Regions from separate parts of the Homo sapiens genome. Here region 1 is linked to region 2. The links come from fine-mapping of genetic effects on gene expression. Tissue or cell type: whole blood. Region 2 holds a variant in brackets; the other region holds the start of a gene. All regions are shown on one strand. Distances are from middle to middle.

What was found. PIP is the estimated chance that this variant, and not a neighbour inherited with it, causes the effect.
Region 1: LINC01479 starts here. The variant in region 2 is the best candidate, but not a certain one, in a credible set for the expression of LINC01479 in whole blood (TOPMed, PIP 0.62).

The regions. Positions count from the first base shown.
Region 1 is chr12:67,927,661-67,933,714 of GRCh38, reverse strand. It overlaps LINC01479 (long intergenic non-protein coding RNA 1479), which reads right to left and starts at 4,480. Exons shown (of 3, transcript NR_120456.1): 1 at 4,328-4,480; 2 at 1,326-1,438.
Region 2 is chr12:67,677,225-67,685,725 of GRCh38, reverse strand. It overlaps LOC105369816 (a long non-coding RNA gene), which reads right to left. Exons shown (of 3, transcript XR_945052.3): 1 at 6,978-8,501; 2 at 6,754-6,863; 3 at 576-4,494. Among named protein-coding and RNA genes, the nearest start is that of DYRK2, 33 kb to the right of the region's middle. The variant G/A (reference allele first, on the strand shown) is at 4,347.

The sequences.
Region 1 (6,054 bases), 250 kb before region 2:
TACTTTTCTTTCTCATGTTTTAATCCTTCCTACTTACAAAGCTAGAAGTTGGCATCTTAAAGATAGGATAGGATGAGGGTAAAGATATTTCTTACATTTCTGGAAGGAGGTGTGTGTGTGTGTGTGTGTGTGTGTGTGTGTGTGTGTGTGTGTAAATCTTCAGGGGAAGACTAAAGAATAACTGTAGGGAATAGTGGCAAATTAATTTAAACTAACATACTGTAATAAAGCCAACCCCTGAGATCTGTTCTTCTGGATGTTGTCATAAATAACACTCTATTCATTATATGGGCAAACATGAATTCAAACTAAATCCATTGAATTTTGTTAAAAAGTCATTTAACTCAGGGTTTAACTCAGGTTCGTTCTATTTCTTTTTAAATTTTATTTTATTTTCAGTTAACCAAATAATTGCATATATTTATGTGGTACAATGTGATGTTTTGATATGTTTATCATGAGGAACGAATAAATCATTTCTTTTAAAAAATGCTTTCTTTTAACTCTAGTTCATAGCAGTATTCAGAGGAAAGAGTGTTCCTGAGTTGCAAGGATCTTTACTGGAGATTTTTTTCTTCTGACCCTGGTTCTTTGACATGAGTAAGACATAACTGATACTGGGGTGATTCCTGTAACTGGCATAGTTCTAAAATGAAGTGGACACAAACTGTTTTCCATTTAAATATTTTAAACTGGCATATATATATCAATAATGGAAACATCTGGGTACATGCTGAACCTTGAATCTTTGTTGTATTTGTTATTTAAAATACACAGATACCCCACCAGTCAGGGTCTGTGCTGTTCCTTGGGCCTCTTTGCTTTTCCAGCTCAGACCTGGCTTTATATGGTCTGTTTCAAGCTCTTCCAGCCTCCATCTTATCAATACTTCAGAAACCTCTAAGGCAGATAGAGGTAGAGTCAGAAGACCTGGATTTGAATATTCCATCATTTGCTTATTTTGTGACTCTGGGTAAATTATTTGACTTCTCTGAGGTAACTTCTTCATCTACAAAAGTAAGAAAATGCTTAATAATTATTTTTAGTATTAGGCCTTTAATTTTCCATGCAAAGCTCTACTCTCATAATTCATTTTGAATCAATGATGGCTTGAAAAATATCCTAGTCATTTCCCTCTGGTAATTTCCCTCATGCCCCACTTCTACGTTTACCATTGATATCAATATTTGTCAGCATTTAAACAAATTATAATGATCTTCCCCCCAAAGGGATTTTACTATTTTTGTTGTTCAACATTGACATTTTCCCACTTCACATCATTTTTGGAAATGGGTAAATAATGAATAAAATGAGTATTGATATACCTTGCAAGATAAATTGTCTCACCGGAATCAGATCACTTCGTTTCACAGCAGTATTGGAATACTTAATCGAATTTCTCAGTGGAGCCACAGGCATGACTTCATGGGCAAGGCTGCTACAGGAGATCAAGTAGAGGTGGAAGAAGAGTAAAGGAAAGGTGAGAGAGGGTCTGATAGCTACCTGCTGCCCAGGTAAGAATGAGGATAAACAAATGGTTAAGCATCATATGAAAGGCATGGAGTTCTTGGAGGTGTGGGGACCCACAGAGCCAATCAGATGGGCTCCCTGAGGCTACCTGACCAGAACTGTGTGCACCTGATAAGCAGGATGGCTACGTAGGGGCTCGGAGAGGAGAGGAAGGCAATGAAGCTGCCTGCTGGCACAGGATGCCTTCGCCAGCAAGACCAGGAAAGGACAGTGTTCAGGACCCAGCTCAAGCCAGCAGTGGAATATCTGTAGTGAGGAATGGAAGCTCACTGCCCCAACAAAAGTGATGCTGCCACTCAACTCAACCCAGATATTGAATTGTTTCAGTTGTCCAAAGTAACAGTATTCTTTGTGGGCCACTGTGACATGGTAAAACATTTTGTTCCTAGCAGATGGTATAAACTTAGTGAATGTTTGCTGAATTTACTCATTCACTTATTCATTCAAAAATACCTATGAAACTTCTATTTTAGGCCCGACACTATTTTAGAGTATAGAAATATAGTCATGAACTAGATAGGCAAGTCCTTGAAGTCATGGGTTTCTATTCTAGAAGGGGAGTCAGATACCTAAATAAACAAGCAGAATAATATTAGGTAGTGACAAGTGCTTATCATTAGACTTATCTAGAATGATGTTTTAAATACAGTGGTCAGGGGAGTGGTATTTGAGGCCTGAATCATAAAAATTAGCCACCTACCCTAGGATCCATACAAAGAGAACCTCAAGTGGATTCAATAACATGTAATGCTTGCTGATTTGTTCTATCCCTTAAGTAAATCTTATTCTAATATACTTCATTCAAAATAGTTGTTGAACATGTTCCATATTCCAAGTAATGTGTTAGGTGCTAGGGATATAAAAGCAAAGCCATAGCCCCTGCCTTCAAGGAACTGATATTCCAATATGGAGATCCAGAGGTGTGAACAATTACAATAAAAAGTGAGAACTGCCCTGATGATGGAGGCATGGTCAGTGGGAGATTTCTTGAAGAAGTACCTTTATTGTAATGAAGATAGCAAGACTATCTGTGTGTTGGGAAAAAAAATGTCCAGGGGTGTCTCATGTTTCTGCAAGCCTTGTCAACAAAGAGACTTTTATTTGGGACTGCCTTCCAAGAATATTTGTATGGTGAACTTCTTGGAGGTTAGAGGTAGCGTGCCTCTCTCAAGCAGAGAGATTTGTTTCTTAACTAGGATACTAAAAAAAAGGTTTCCTTCTAAGGAAAAAGTTGGGCAGGTTTCCTTATAGCCTCTTTAAAAGCTTGTAGTTTCCTAAGCTCGGGGTTTTTCACCTTTGGTGCAAACCGACTGCGTTTGCAGCATCTACCTTGGCCACCCCCTAATGCCCCATAGGATTTGGAGGACAAGAAGAACCTACATGAATATTGGAGCTGATGCTGCTTGCTGTGCCATGAGTGATAAAGTCCTCTGTGTCTGACTCAGGAATCTGTGTCTTCTGCAAGAATCCATGCAATTGTGGCGGCTCCCTTGTTAGCTTGGAAGCAGACAAAACTTCACACCCTTAATCATTCTTAACATGGTGACAATATTAAAATTATTTCAGGTTTATGAGCTTTATTTTTCTCAGTGGAAAACTTGGGATAAAAATTCTAACTTCACAAACTCATTGTAAGAGACAAATGGAAGGTCATAGGTGTAGCAGAGATGGTTAGCTATTCCCTAATATATGTTCTCTCTCTCTCTCCTCTAACATAGAAATTGTAGTGTGACAAAGGCTACCAGACTGACTAAAACATCTCCTAGCCTCGTTTGCAGCTAGCTGTGATCAAGCAATAAAGCTCTGTCAATGGGGTGTGAGCAGAAACACAACTTGCAGATGATGCTCTTGCAAGGAAGGAAAATTCTCTCCCCTTCACCTTCCCTCCTTCCCATTGCCTGGAATACAGACACAGTGGTAAGACATCTTGGAACATTTGGATGGGAAACACCCTACACATGGCAGAGCACTAAAACAAAAGGAACCTGGAGCCTCTGTCCTCTTGCTGTCACCATTCAAGTCCTGGACTGCAAATATACAGACTGTCACATCAGAAAAAACTTCCCGTCTTGTTAGAGCCACTCCTATTTGGCATGTTTATTGAAGAAATGAACTGGTATTCTAATGAATGGAGGAATGAGAAGATCCGAGTGAGGGATTAGAAAGATGCTATTGGTGATGGTAGAGAAAAGAAAATAGAGCCAGATAAATTAGGAGGGAGATCACCTAGCTGCCAAGTAATGGGTTATTTTTCAGAGGTTTTGAATGTTGGCAAATCTTTAAGTCTTACCTGGTCTGTGGACTCTTACAAGAAGTTTGAATTCCATAGTCAAATTAGGAACACACTGACTTAAACATAATTCTTTATTATAGGTAGTACAAGTGTTTTCAGCACTAAAAGATTTTATGCCTCTTAAAAGAGAGGGCTGAAAATAAAGTATTCCTCATACTTATCTGAAAATGAGACCTTTCATCTAAAACTAGTGTTCATGGCCACTAGAGGACACATGATCCAATGCCTATGGGATTTAAAGACGTCTCCCAGCCCTCTTAGAAATTTGTAACCTGCAGTAACACCCAAATAGTCAACAAAGCAATTCACAAAGGTATTTGTCAGATAGGATGAAATAGACATGTGTGCATGACACATACACACCCTTTTCCAAACCAGAGCCAAAAGTTGCAGATACACCAGAAACCATGCGGTATCAATTTTCCCCTCTAAAGAGTTCAGCTTTGTTTTTGTTCCAAGGTGTGAATGAATAGCACAAGGACTGAAAAGGATAACAGTTCCTACCTTGATTCCACTTGAAGATCTTCATGAAGAAAGTCCTTGCTGGAACCTGAGCAGACTGAATACTAATTTCTCTTAGCAAGACATTACACTGCATGGTGGATGGCCTTCTTGCTCAGGAAGTTCATGACAATCCAAGAGGCAAAATGAAAGGAGGCAGAACAGAGCATGTAAAGTCAGAATCTTGTGACTTTGGCCCTGAGAGTGTTTGATCTGGCAGGAACTATTTTCCATGAGTAACCGAGTCCTGTATAGCACTTATGGGATCAAATGGCAGTATAAATTGGATCAACAGTTAATGTCTTAATTCTCTCCATGACCAATGTGAGGAAAAGTAATTCTATTTAAATCCTTCATAGAAAAATACTTCATGCAGAATCCTGGGGGGAAAAGAATTAAAAATTGTGATCTCATGTCAAATATTCCTGCAGTTTTCTCAACAGTACAGTTAATCCTTTGGGCTGGCAAAAGCAGGTTTTCTTTCATTATTTTGGTCTGTATTGGCAACGAAGTTATTAGGTGCAAAAGAAACACACACAGAGATGTCACACCACACTTGACACTGTCACTGTGGTGACAAGGTTTTCTCCAGCTGTCAGTGTCAGAAGGATTTCATTCTGTTTGATGCCACACGGTTTTGTGGTGAGAAGTGGCAGGCAAGCCCTTTTATTCCTTGTAATGTCTTCATTAATAATAGCAGTCATCAATTACCAGAGAAAAGGAGTACAAAATAAATTGTAAACATTATAACCTGGGGTCTTTATGGAGGATCTTTTATATTGTTTCATGGAATTGGAGGTGAATTCAGCAATAGGATTTTTGAACTCTGGAAAGATAGGGGGAAGCTTCCATTTCTTATATGCATGTTGGTCACATAAGACATCAGTCTGTGTGCACAGTTTCCTCATTTTCTTCAATGGTCTGGGTCATTACTTACCCAACAATCTGAAAAAAAAGTACAAATTATGTGTCTAAGTCTATACAATGAGAAGGTGACTTCTTTTTAAGAGCCATGAGAACTTCTCAGAATAAGAATCTCTTTTACAAACCAGTGGAAATCTATCAATCTTAGTTTGGGGGATACCAGGTAAGGTTTCTTCTTTGTAGGGTTTCTGGAGCTTTTAATGAGATGATGCATTCTGTGAAGCTTTAAGGGAAAAAGAAAATATACAGTTTCCTGAGTTTGTTTCATCACAGAAACATTTGTTATGGGCCTAGATAGTTCCATGAAACCTCTATTTTGGAAAGGCTAAAGGAATTAGTTAATCCATTAGCTTTTATATCTAATAAGCACATACTGTGCCTACAAAGAAACAAAAGTTTTCAAGAAACGCCCTCTTAACCTGGCAGTCGGACCAAAGTCCACATTCTTGGTGAGGAAGTTAGGCCTAACAATGTTTTAGCAGAGATATAATTTGATCCTTGGGACTATTTAAGAATACAGCAGTAAAAGTTGCTTACTTTGAGCTGTGGCAGAGATGGGCTGCAGGATTTGTGCAATTCTCATCTCACTGGTTGGAATTCTCTTCTCTCCTATTTGAGAAAATACAGTGTGAAAAAGTCACGTTCCTGCAAGGGTAGAACTCACAGTCTCTAAAATATGACCTAGTGATTCAAAAAGATTGGTACTTTGCTGTTTGACAACATTTTTCAGTGAACCATCACACTTTAAAATAGCCCTGTATAGAGCCCTGACTCCAAGGATCCTGAAAGTATCCCAGAGAGGCTTT
Region 2 (8,501 bases):
ATTGCGCCACAGCATTCCAGCCTGGGAAACAGAGCAAGACTCCATCTCAAAAAAAAAAAAAAAAAAAAAAAAAGAGCCAAAACAATTTTGACAAAGAAAAGCAAAGTTGGAGAACTAACTGTGTACTTTCAAGGCTTATTATAAGACTAATCAATACAGTCTGATATTAGAATCAAGATAAACAAATATATCAATGGAACAAAATAGAGTCCATAAATAGACCAACACATATTTCAGCAACTGATGTTTGGCAAAAGTACAAAGGCAATTTGGTGAAGAAAGGAGAGATTCAACAAATGGCATTGGAACAATTGAATACATGTATGCAAAAAAAATTAATTTTGTTTCAACCACACACAAGGATTAGCTTTAAACTGATCACAGACTTCAATACAAAACCTAACACTAAACCCAATAGAAAATCTTTGTGATCATAGGTTATGCAAATATTTGGTAAACATAACACCCAAGCATAATCCATGAAAGGAAAAAAGGTAAAGATTGAGCCTCACCAAAATAAAAAATTTCTATTCTTCAGAAGGCACTGTTAAAAGAATAAAAAGTCAAGCTACAGATTGGAAGAAAACATTTGTAAATCATATCTTTAATGAAAGCTTTGTATCCAAAATACATAAAGAAAACTGAAATCTCAATAAAAAGAAAAAAAAACAATTTTTTAAACGACCAAAATATCTGAACAGATACTTTTCCATAAAGATATACAGATGACAAACAAAAACATGAGAAGATAGTCAATATAAATAGTCACCAAGGAAATGTAAAATAAGACTGCAATAAGATACCACAACATAGCTGTCAGAATGGCTGATAGAGTTGACTGCCAAGATAAGGATGTGGAGAAACTGGAATTCTCATATACTGTAAAACACTTTGGAAAACAGTTTGACAGTTTCTTAAAAATTTAAACATATGCCTATCATATAATCCAGCCATTCCACTTCTAAGTATTTATCCCAAAGAAATGAAATCCCAGCCCATACCAAGACTTGTACATGAAGGATCACAGCAGTTCTATTTGTAATAGCCAAAAACTGGAAAAAGCAAAACAAAAACCAGATTTCCATCAACAAGTAAATTTGTTAATTGTGGTTTATCCACAGAATGAATGTATTGTTACACAGTATAGTGTGAATAATCTCAAAATAATTATGCTGAATGAAAGAAGTCAGATGTAAGAGTACATACTATATGATTTCATTGATATAAAATTCTAGGAAATGCAAGCCAATTTATTGTCACATAAGCAGAACGGTGGTTGCCTGAGATTGGGGGAGTGGGAAGAGGTAGGAAGAAGAGATTATCAAGGTGCATGAAGAAACTTTAGAGCATGATGGTTGGTGGTTATGTTCATCATCTTGATTACTGTGATAGTTTCAGGGGTGTGTACCTAAGTCCAAAATGTATCAAACTGTTCACTTTAAATATGTGCAGTTTATTGTATGTCAATTACACCTCAGTAAAATTGGTAAAAACTAAATAAAAGTAGTGCTTGCATATGAATTTTTAAAAACCCTTAAAATAGGACAAAATAGAAATTTCTCTGAAGATTGCTTCCATAACACTGAATATGGTTATGCCTCTCTTTACTAACTTGTCAAGTTTAAACATTCGTTGATCTCTCATTTTAAAAAAATTGAAAAAATAAATTTTCTCAAGCTACTACCTCCCTTTTCCGATCTCTGCCCATTAAATTTTTATTTTTTAACTTTTTCAATGTTTTGTGTTGTATTTTCATTTAACTTTGTACCTGACAAAGAATTGTATATATTTATCATGTCAATATGTTGTTTTAAAATATGTATATATTGTGAAATAGCTAAATTGAGCAAATTAACATATGCATTAGCTCACATACTTAACATTTTTATGGTGACAACACTTAAAACCTATTCTCTTAGAGCAACTTTCAAGAATATAAAACATTGTTATTAACTATAGCCACAATATTGTACAATAGATCTCCTGAATGTATTCCTCCTGTCTAACTGAAACCTTGTATCCTTTGACCAACATCTTCCTAATCCCCCTCCCCGCATTTTCTTTACCCATTCATCCACTGATGGACACTTACATTGATTTCATTTCTTGGATACTGTAAATAATGCTGCAGTGAACATGAAAGTGCAGATGTCTCTTTGGCATACTTATCTCATCTTCTTTGCATATATACCCAGAAATCCCATTTCTGGGTAATATGTAGATTTATTTTTAATTTTCTGAGGAACCTCCAGACTGTTTTCCATAATCAATGTACTAATTTACTTTCCCACCAGCAGGGTACAAGGGTTCCCTTTTCTCCAGATGTTTAGTTGTTTTCCATCATCATCATCATCATCGTTATCATCGGTAACATATGATGATATAGAATAATTTTTTATGTGCCAAAGACTGTTCTAAGCACTTTATATATATCAACTGTTTTTATTTTCAAATAACTTTGTGAAATATTAACTATTTATTTTCAATTTTTGCTGAGAAAACCAAGGCACAGATAAGCAATTTGCCCAAATTGAAGTGTGTGGCAAAAATTCAAACGCAGGTGTTCTGGCTCCAGGATCCATGCTCTTAACGACTATGTTATAGTGCCTCAGTGTGATATCACTACAATTAACAAATTTATATAAGATACTTGAAACCCTATTTTGACTTCTCAAATGTAGACACAATATCTCTTAATTCTTTTTATTTCTGATGAAAAGAATCCAACATCATTACATCTTGTTCCTTTGCTCCTTCCCTCTCTCCTAACCTCCATTCCAGTGTACTATTGTTTTCACACTTGTCCTATAACTACAATTAATCTTTGATGCATTGTCTATAAATTGATTTTTTAAACTGAAAACTGAAAAGTAGCATTCATAATATTCGTAGGGAGATCATTGTTCACTGCAGAACCAAGCACAGCTGTGCCCTTGAGCCTATAGAGGAGACGTAACTCTTGTCAATAAACCTTTGCTATTGGAAGAAGAAAATTACTTCACAGTTTGGAGAGTGTTTGGATGATACCTTATCACAATGACCTACCATGCCTTTGCCTTGTCACAAGACCACTCAGCTTCTCAGTCATTCAATTTATAGAAGAAATCCATGTCCTCCTGAAAGAGATTCTTCACAGAGCATCTGACTTCTGGTTCTAATTCAGACTGATGGCTTTCTAGGCCTGCCTCAAGGTTGTCATCCTGGAATTATATTTCATTACAATCTTGGGTGAGATCCACTGTTCCTTAGAGGCCATGGCTTCCTCCTACTTGGATTCTTTTTTGTTTTGCTTCAGTAATTCTTTCAGAAATAGTCTGTGGGTGGTAAATGGTCTGAGTTCTTGCATGCTTGAAAATGCCTCACTCTTGATCGATTGATAGTTTGGCTAAGTAGAGAATTTTAGGTTCAAAAAACTTTATTTTACACATTTTGAAGGCATGCTTCTTGTTTTGTTTTTCTTAGCATTTACAGTTGCTGATGATCTATCTAATACCAATTGGATTCTCACTGAGTAATCTATTCTTTTGGCTTTTAGACTCTTCCCTTTATTCTCAATATCTAAAATGTCACAAGAATGTGCCTTGGGCTAAGTTTGTTCATTCATCCTATTTTGCATTCTCTAGGGTTCTTACAATCTCAAGTCCTATTTCCTCACTTATGGAAAATTCTCTCTTATTCTTTGTTTTGTCTCTTTCTGAACATCCCTTTGGATGCTTCTCTAATCTCTTCACTTTTCTCCCACATTTTCCATCCTTTATCTTTTTGCACTACATTTAGAGCAGTTTCTTCAACTTTTTCTCCCAGGTCTTCCCTTGAATTTCTAACTTTAACAATTACTTTTTCATTTTAATAACTATTTATTTTGTTTTAGTTGTTCTTTCTTAGCAATCTAATTTTGCACTAAAAATGCTTTCTCTCGACTTTGTTTCCATGAGGATACTACATAGAATAAAGAATTTTCTATGTCCTGAATTATCTATTTCCTCCAGAGTCAGGGTATTTTTTCTCTCAACCTGCTCTTTTGTCCTCATTTTTCTTCAGGTTTTCATAATCCTTGGCTATAGATTCATACCTACAACTGAGGTAAGTCACCTCATTCAATGCAGATAGCTCGGCCTTGTCCAGCTCTCTCTTGTCTACACAAGTGGCTGTCACTGGCAGCCTTTGCTTTAGACCTTGTAGTGAAAGAAGAGGAGGTTGGAGGTCCCCCTCCCTACTTCTCCCACTTCCCAGCAAAAGTGGGAAGAAGTTTACTCAGATGAGGCATCACCCCAACTAGGGCTCCTTCTCACGAAGACTATTCAATTATTTTAAATATTAGTCCTCTGGTTTTAGCCTGAGCATGT[G/A]ATGCAGGGAAGGAGAACATGGACTATGACTCACGCAGTTATTCCACAGTTGATTTCTTTCCAACTCTCCTTTCATACTCCAAGTGTTGAGCTTCTCTCTGGGTCTGTTGCCAGGAAAAATAGCTCTAGCCTCTACTGCAGCCTTCTCCTGTGAATGTGATTTAAGCTGTTAATACAATTCCAAGTATTCCCACTTTCAAGAAACTTATCTATATCCCTAGTTCCTGATGCCCTTTCTTCTGTACCGAGTAGTCTTTAATTTATTACCCTTAGTTCTTCTTTGCTGACATTTCTATGAGATTTAAAGTAGAAAGGAGATATGTGCTGTGTCTGCCATCTTGAATGAGAATTCTCTTTGCCTCTTTGGACATCTTTGTGCTTTTCTCATTTTGAGGCAAAAGACTCCATATAGCTTCTTCTCAAGGCCATAGGACAATACAAACAATTCCTTAATTTATCTTCTACTTGTCAGCTCTCCAAATATTTGAAACTAGTTTTATATTCTCCTATGGTGTCCAGGATAAATATTTCTAATTCCACTAACCATACCTCACTGAAATTTTGGTACTATCATTCCAATCATTTTCTTCTGAACTTTCCCCACCTTCTTAAATAATTCAATGCAATACCTAAGGTACTAATGCTCGAAACTACTTCAGAGTAACCTAGTCTTCCCTACTACATCACATACACACAATGGCCAGCTACTTCCTTCCCTTCCCTAGGCAAATAAAATTAATATTACATCTCTACCAGCTGCTGTGAAAACTCTATGCAATGGCGACATATTTAAAAGCCATGAAATTATGAGAAAATAGAATTTCTGTCCGAGAATTTCCAGGCCCCCTAGCATAACTTCTAACTTGTACATAATTACTTTATCACAGAAATAAACGTTATTCAAAAATTCTTAGTTTTAGTCACTTTGGAAAGAATAATACTATGTGTTAAGAAAGAAATTTGGGATAACTGTTCCTAAGCTGATTAAAGTATGCAGTTGAAGCCACTATATACATATATACATATATTTTTTTCTTCAGTTATTTGAACTGGAACTCCAAAACTCCAACACATTTCCCATTTCTCATGAGCAAAAATGAACACTTTTCTAAGAGCCTCACATTATTGTAAAATTGCCACTAATTAAAATGTGTGTAATATTTAAAAATCAATAAAAAGAGGGTAAAGGTAAGTATTATATCCACCTAAAACAGTATCACTATAGTGACATCCCTTTATAACAACGTTTAAGAAAATTAAATAAAATATTGTCTTACAAAGTTACATGGTACAGTTCTCAACTAACACAAAGATTTTTCTAATACGTGTAGCTTCCTTGGAATTTTCTTTGCCCCAGTTCCTTGGAGAGACTACTTGTAAACCCCAAAAGAAAAAGGTTTTTTAATATGTGTAGGGAAAGATTTATTTCAGATGTATTTTTAAAACGAGATATTTAATAGGAATTTAAAAGATGTTTTCAAAATCTACATATTTGTTTATCTGTTGAAAAGAATTAAGAAACTATTTCACGCTAAGCACTAGTGATTTATTAATATAATGAAAAAACTTTCAGTCTCTATTCTCATAGATCTTGCACAGGTGAAAGATATATTGATTCAAATTTGTTAAAGCACTTTTTTTTCTACACTTTGTTTAAGGGAGATTTAAATGCGCACCAAATATATGCCGGCCTGGAGAAGGCAAAAAGCCTGGCAGCGGCCGGGCGTGGGGGCTCACACCTGTAATCCCAGCACTTTGGGAGGCCGAGGCGGGCGGATCACAAGGTCGGGAGATCGAGACCATCCTGGCTAACACGGTGAAACCCCGTCTCTACTAAAAAAATACAAAAAATTAGCCGGGTGTGGTGGCGGCCTGTTGTCCCAGCTACTCAGAAGGCTGAGGCAGGAGAATGGCGTGAACCCGGGAGGCGGAGCTTGCAGTGAGCCGAGATCGCGCCACTGCACTCCAGCCTGGGCGACAGAGTGAGACTCCGTCTCAAAAAAAAAAAAAAAAAAAAAAAAAAAGCCTAGCATCTTTTCCATTCTCTGGGTCCAATGCACTGTGTCAATAACACTTGTGCAGTGTTGGCTATGAAGATTCAGCAGTGAAAATTTAGTTGGAAGTTAAGAATACACCTCAGGAAAAAATTATTTCATTACCCCATTCTTATTTTCTCTGATCAATGAGAATTTGGAGACCAGACATTCCCGTTTCTACAGTTGCATGGCGACACCTGCATGCCCAGTATTGGTGGTCCTGTTGAATCTCCTACTTGTAATACTGGGTCTCCTGCAAGCCTCGTAAAATGCATGCTCTGCCCTGGACAGCCATCTTTAGTTCACAGGGCACACCTGCTCATTCACACTTCCTTTCCTTTGCCTGAAATGCACTTGCTATTCTCATTTACCTGGAGTCTTCTTACTTCTGTTTCAAGGCTCAGCTCAAACACTGCTTCCTCGGGGAAGCCTTCACTGACTCCCGGGGTGGTGAGTCAGCTCAGTGGCCTTGTAGCAACAACTGTGAGAAAAGACAGAGCAGGAAATGGATCTCGGCTCTAGTTCTTACCAGATTTGTAGTTATGTAAACTTTCTGAATCTTAGTTTTTCCCATCTATAAAATACAGATACTTACCTTGCAGGGCTGTTTTGAGGATGAAATGCAATGGTGAAGATAAAGTCCCTACACAGAGAGCTTGGCATGACAGCACACAGTGTTTTCTATCCTCCTTGTTTTTAGCCACACCTTTGAAAGGCAGGAACTTAAAATCTCATGCTTAGATCCACCATGGTCTCTATTATGGAAATCATTTGGAAAACAATAATATGAAGTTAAAATTAAAGCCAGCATTATTAATCAAAGCTTGTTAAAGATTTTCCAATTATTTACAAAGCTCTTTCATGTAAAGTATGACTATGAAATAATTAGAATGATCTTTTACTTGAAATGTATACAAGCAATACTTTCAAAGATGCTGATCAAAAGCCTCAGCACTCTGTGTGAGAACCTATAAATTTTACATAGAGGTCAATGCTATATTCTTAGCAATCACATCTGCTCTTTTACCTACTTTACAAACTCAGAGGTAGGCAGGAAGTACACAGTACACCGATAGCAAAGATTCCCAGGGACAATAACAATATAAAAACAATAACTTTTTTTTTTTTTGAGACGGAGTCTCGCTCTGTCCCCCAGGCTGGAGTGCAGTGGTGCAATCTCAGTTCACTGCAACCTCCACCTCCCAGGTTCAAGTGATTCTCCTGCCTCAGCCTCCTGAGTAGCTGGGATTACAAGCATGTGCCACCATGTTTGGCTGATTTTTGTATTTTTAGTAGAGACAAGGTTTCACTATGTTGGCCAGGCTGGTCTCAAACTCCTGACCTCGTGATCCGCCCGCCTCAGCCTCCCAAAGTGCTGGGATTACAGGTGTGAGCCACCACGCCGGGCCAGCAATAACTTTTGTATTTTATAAGAATTTGCATTACTTCAAAGTCTTTCACTCATGTCTTAAACATTCCACAAACTTTCATTACCCCTCACAACATCCCTGAGGCAGGTCAGTAGTGCTCAGTTGTCCCAGTTTCCAGAAGTGTATGCAAAAGTCCTTCAACATCAGTATAACAGAGTAACAGAGTGATGCTGGGTGTGGTTTTTTTGTTTGTTTGTTTAAATAGGAGGTCAGGAAGATGGAATACTCCTCAACAGGTGAGAAGCTGTTATGCCTTTCCAAGTAGTATTTGTTTCCCATGGGCTATATGTTTTTCGTCAACATTTTTACTCTGTTTCAAGAAATTTGGGAAACATAAGTGCCTTACTCACTCACTCACTCATTCTGGTTAAAAACAGACTTTCAAGTGTGAATCCTTGGTTCAATTCCAACTCTACCACCTTTTAGCTATGAGGCCTTGGATGAGTTACTTCCTCTGTGTTATGGACTGAATGTATGTATCCCTCCAAAATTCATATGTTAAAGCCCTGTCCCCACTGTGATGGTATTAGGAAGTGGGACTTTTGGGAGGTAATTCTGTTTAGATGAGGTCATGAGGGTGGGAACCCAATGATGGGATTAATGTCCTTATAAGATGAGCAAGAGACCACACTCCCTCTATTTCCATCATGTGAAAACACAGCAAGAAGGCAGCTGTCTGAAAGCCAGGA